Linked DNA regions of Homo sapiens: region 2 is linked to region 1. Evidence: fine-mapped expression QTL. Tissue or cell type: testis. Region 1 holds a variant in brackets; the other region holds the start of a gene. All regions are shown on one strand. Distances are between the middles of the regions.

Region 1 (2,771 bases):
TGTTATTTAACTTTCACTGCCTGATGAATGATGCAAGAAAGTGGGACAGATGTCATCAAGGGCCCTTCTGGGAGTGAAGCATGAATCCCTTATAATAGCACGTTGACCATAGCAGCTCCAATGGAGTCCAGAGAACGTGTAGGCAGCTCTCTCAAGCTGCAAAATCCTGCTTGTGTCTGGAGTTTTCACAGATAGCCAGGGAGACTTTGAAGCTGCTTTGTCTCAGGCATGTGGTGCTTGGTCACAATGCATTGCTTAGCAGTCTACATCCCCTGTACACTGACGCTTTCTTCTCACTTCTCAATTGACATTCTTCTCACTCATGGCTACAACAGTTGGGCTGGAAATCCTGCCCTTCCTTCACAGTATTACCCATGAAAGAGGATAAAACAAGAGCCTTAGCCCCTGTGTTTGCCTCCCGGGAGACGGGGAGACTAGAGTGTTAACAGTTCTCCTTCTACCTACGAACTCCTGGGAGGGGAAAGCCTAGGTACTTTTACCAAGAAGCTAAGAAACTGGAACTGGAAATTTGAAGCTGTTAAAAAAATAATAATTTCAGAGATCCAGGCTACCACTGAAGTTGGAAGACTAGAGTGAACAGTTTTCTCTTGAGAATATAATTTATGGCATTTTGGGATTATGAAAGTCATGATCCAGGAAATAGGAAATGGAGGCAAAGGAAGTAAAATTGATTGATGTAATAAAGCAATAGGCCTTTTCTCTTCTTCATAGTGGTCCCAAGGAGTATTATAGGGTCACTGAATGTGGAGAATTAGGAAAAGGGAGAAGAGACACAAGAGGAGAGAAAAGAGGCCACAGCAACTGTTAGGGACTAGGGCCCATGAAGAGAAACAGGAGCAAACAATATTGAGATGAGAACGGCCAGGCAAGGTTACAAGAGTGAGGTCTGATACTCATTTGTAAATTGTTTCCTCTCCTCTGCTGTGATCTCCCTCTTGAAACTGCTGCCCTCATCAACACTGTGAAGAGGTGAGATGGAGTTGAGGAGGAGCTGTGTCCACATTGAAGAACTCCAGACTCAGGAAGGGTGACAAGCACAGACAATCATGACAATGCTCAGGGGTGGAGCTTGGAGAGGAGATGGTGTACACAATGCAGAGAATGCAGGCATCCCCCTAACAGAGGTATTCTCAGAAGGATTTGGGTGCTGGTGTTGTTTTGGCAGGAAG[G/A]GGATAACGAGAGAACCAGTCAGGATGGGGGATTTTGTCATTGTATTTGGATATTAGAGAAATGTGTGGCCTCAAAGGCGGAAATCTGGAGACGCTTGAGCTAAAATGTAACGCTATAAGCTGGCTCAGATAAGTGTCCACCAAAAAGTAAGGCCAGGCCCTGTCTTGGATCTCAAAGAGGGTGATTGAGTTTCCCAGGGTTTTCTTCCCTCAGGGGAGGTCCAAGTGTTTTAAGAGGGGAAAACCGATGATCTGTACACAGAAACACTCCATTTGTGGGTTGTGGAAGGTGGGTAGACAGCCAGAGGTTCAGGGCATCCTTCCAGGAGTTTACCTTAGGTCTGCAAGGCGAGGCTTATCAAAGAGACTGCCGGCATTTTAAGAGGAATTCCCATCAGAGTGGTGACAAGCACCAGCGGAATGAGGAAGAAAGGAAAAAATCACACTCAGAAACAATAAACAGCAAAAGAAGGAGTTCCAAGGAGAGACAACTGAGTAGTGTTCTCCCTTGGGAAAGGTGAAATATCTGGAAAAATCACTCCTTCATTTAAGACCCTGGGGTCTGTGTTATTCTGGGGAGAGCTACGGAAAAAGTAGACAACTCACTGCTAAGGATGACATCGCTGCATGAGGCTGGAAATGCAGAGGGCAGAGTGAGCCAAATGCATAGAGCTCTTGACCTTGCTTGCATATTCTTTACCTCCCAGCCTTCCTGGGCCATCCTTTCCCTCCTTCCAAATTGCCTATCTTTCTTCCTTTGCTAACTCCGTCTGGAAGCCTCTTCTCCTCATCAGCCCTGTGCAGTGCTGATGGTTAACTTATGCACAAGATGAAATGCTGCTCTTCCTTTAGTGCGCTATGATGGTTATTTTTCACATGTGTTTTCTCTGTGGCTATAATTGCATTGAAATCTGTCTCAGGAGAGGCTTAATGGCTAAGAGCATTGGACATGGGTTAAAATCCTGGCTTGCCTCTTTTTAGTAAATGACAGGGGCAGGTTCACTTAATCTGAAAATGGAGAAAACAGTAATACCCACCTCACTGAACTGTTGTGAAGATTAAATGAAACAGCACATGTAAGGCACTTAGTGGCTGGCATATACTAAAAGCTTAATAACAAAGATCATTCAGTAGAACTCAATAAAAACTCTCACACACTGCTGTTGGGAGTGTACATGACAATGACTGCTTTTGAAAACAATTTAGTGGTATATATTAAAGCTGAACGTATGCATAGATTATGGCCAAACAATTCCACTTCCATATACTCTTAGGCCTTTACTTTCCCAAATGCATACGTATTAGTTATCTAATAATAAATCACTCCAAAACGTAATAGCCAAAACAACATTTATTATAGCAGGTTCTGTGGGTCAGGAGTTCAGGTGTGGCTGAGCTGGGTCTTCTGTCTCAGGGTATTTCACAAGGCTGCAGTCAGCCAGGGCTGTGGTCACCTCAAGGCCTGTTTGGGGGAAAATCCACTTCCAAGCTTACCAATGAAGTTGTTGTCAGGATTCAGCTCTTCATGTGTTGTTGGAATGATGACCTCAGGTCCGTACAGAAGTCTGTCCTCAATTCCTC
Region 2 (2,771 bases), 22 kb before region 1:
TATTGTGTCTTTTTTTCCTGTTACCAACAATTGTCTCATTAAATACAACAAATACTTATTGTTCATCCATGACAATTGATAACTGATCCTTTATTTAAAAACAAATAACCCATTTAATCCCTTCTAGAGCTACAGACTTTACCAAGACACCCTCTGGAAGAAATCTCTCTGCTTTGTTGAGATGACTTTTCCTGTTTTTTTGTTAAACCTAGCTAACATCCCTCCAAGTGAAGACTAAGTTTCTGCCAACCTTCACTCTAAGTAAAGAAACTAAACGCAGAGTACTCTTTCTGGAGAATTCATTAGGTGGAACCATATAAAACTACTGTTTTGGAGATTTTAAAAGTTAAATACTAGTAACTTTATGTGGTTCAATCTAACTTATTATAACTGGAACTTTTTAAAAGTCTAAGTTAATGTGAATTAAAAATTGACTTTTCTTATGCTTAAGGCCTAAATTTACAAATAATAGTTATAAGTAATCATCCCATTAGTTAACCAAATAATAATTAGTAGACTGCTTATATTTATTAGACTGCTTATTAAGAAGCATATTGCAAGGAACATGATTTTTGAACCAGAAGCACTTGTCCTTGATTTCTATCTCTACCACTAATAAGTACACTAATCAGTTTAACTTTGGTTTCCTCTTTTTATAGAACTAAGGATTAAATGACACAATGTCTATATAAGTACTTTATAATCTACAATTGTTACATACATGCTAGTTGGTTTTGTTATCACCTCATTTACTTACTAGAATACCCCATGAGGTATAAAACACATAATATTATTTTTTCTACTGGACACATGAGAAAACAAAGTCAGATGTTAATGCCTTGTCTATTGTCATTGACTTGTTGGAGAGTTGTAATTTCTACCCATGTTTTCTGACTTCAGATATCTCCATTACAAACAGTATTGTAAATACACAAACAGTATATTTACAGGTTGTATCTTAAGAGGCAATATTCTGTATACTATAGAAAAAGAATCTCAAGTTATAATAAATAAAAATAAGAACTTAATTTAAACAATGTTTCAGGTATTGTGTTGAATGCTTCACAACACCCTCATTTGGTTGATACCATTCTTATCTCCAACTTCCAAATTGGAAACCTGAAGCTTAGAGAAGTTTGATGACCTTCCTGAGTCTATCTACATAGTGAGTGGAGGGTTGGAACTCAAGCCCGATTTGAGCAGATTCTGAAACCTGCTTTTAATGGCTACTTGATGAAAACATATATTGCTTTTATAATCCGAAGAACCACCCCAAAGAAAATTCCACTGCAATGCTAACATGGGAAGGGAAATAATTGAAAAACACATTTCTTAATGCAGATGGCAAAAGAATGGAACCCTAAGTAAGTGGGCTGTGACATACCTGAGCCTGTTCCCACTGTAGCTCACTCATGCCTCCCGCCTCCTGAGGCAGCGGCAGGGCCAGGCTGCCAGGCAGCAGGCACACAGCACACAGCACGGTGAGTCGCATAGCTGCCGTCCAGAGACAATTGTTCTTGGACCTATGGTTGATTTGGTGTTTTCTGCTAGTGACTGCAGAAATTTATATAGCTTCTCAGCCTCGAATGTGGAAATAGGTGACTCATTTGAGTGTTTTCTTTCTTTTTAGAGTCTACAGAACTTTGAAAGTATGTGTTATTTTTCATTAACTAAAACGAGGAAGTATTACATCGTTATTGGCAGGAAGCACACAATGTATTTGTCTTTCAAAGGATTTTTTTTTCTGTCTGCTGCATAAATTGACTCCATGAGAAACCTCATTTTTTTGCCAAAGTCAAATGACTGCTCTCATAGGTATCATTCAGGACATTATGGTACCATATATTCTTAAAGAATAATATATATTCTTAAATATATATTCTTATTATATGGTACCATGTATTCTTAAATACATGGTACCATATATTCTTAACAATTAAAAGGTTTGGAAAAGTGCACAAAACATGTAAATAATGAAATAATAATTAAGCAAATACTGTAACCGTCACCAAAGTCAAGAAATAGAACATCACCAAAATCCTGTGGTTCTCCATACAGGGGAAAGATGGCAGGAGGCAGATGGAAATGCTGCTGTGTGGCTGGATTAGTGGCCACTCTATATACAACTGTGCTGTGTCCCCTCACCTTCCACGTCCCTTAGCAGAGCAGTGATAATTCCCTTCTTTGGGTCTCCTTTTAATCAGTTTATGTCTTTTCTTAATGGGGAACACTGCCTCTAATTCTTCTTGAATTAAACACAAAAAAATACCAAGCCAACAAAAATCTACAAGCACGGGTTTAACTCTTCATCTGGCTTACTTATTCTGCTTCTCATTTTATAGTAACAGATTCTTCCAAGGCTAGACCTTCAACTTGGAGATCCAATTTTTTTCTTCCAATCACTCTGACTCTGGCTGCTGCCCAGCTACAGGTAGGGCTGCATTGGTCCTTAGTACACAAAATGGTTATTCTACGTATAGCAGTAAGAATCCATTACCTACAGATTCTAGCCCAATGACTCCATTCTTACCAAAAATGAAAGTGAGGCCAAGATGATAATTTAACTTATTATACTTCTCCCAGCTCACACAGATAGTAGCTCAGTGCTTTTTCTATCCCACTGCACTGCCTATTCATTTTGTAATAGGTCTGTCTCTTTTATTATATTATACATTACTTGGGAGAACACCATGGCTTTTGACTCTAATACATCATGGGAAACACTCCAAATATGCTGGAGCTAAAAAATTTAATTAATCACATATCACTTC

Direction of the effects. Positions count from the first base shown, and alleles are read on the strand shown. Sizes are in standard deviations (SD) of each study's normalised expression.
For the expression in testis of the gene that starts at base 1,539 in region 2, allele A in region 1 goes with a higher level than allele G (small effect, 0.36 SD a copy in GTEx).

Evidence for each region. PIP is the estimated chance that this variant, and not a neighbour inherited with it, causes the effect.
Region 2: MMP7 starts here. The variant in region 1 is fine-mapped to the expression of MMP7 in testis (GTEx, PIP 0.91).

What each region holds. Positions count from the first base shown.
Region 1 is chr11:102,551,152-102,553,922 of GRCh38, forward strand. No RefSeq gene overlaps it. Among named protein-coding and RNA genes, the nearest start is that of MMP7, 22 kb to the left of the region's middle. RefSeq lists an enhancer at 185-234. The variant G/A (reference allele first, on the strand shown) is at 1,191.
Region 2 is chr11:102,529,209-102,531,979 of GRCh38, forward strand. MMP7 (matrix metallopeptidase 7) reads right to left here and starts at 1,539. Exons shown (of 6, transcript NM_002423.5): 1 at 1,385-1,539. The coding sequence starts at 1,492.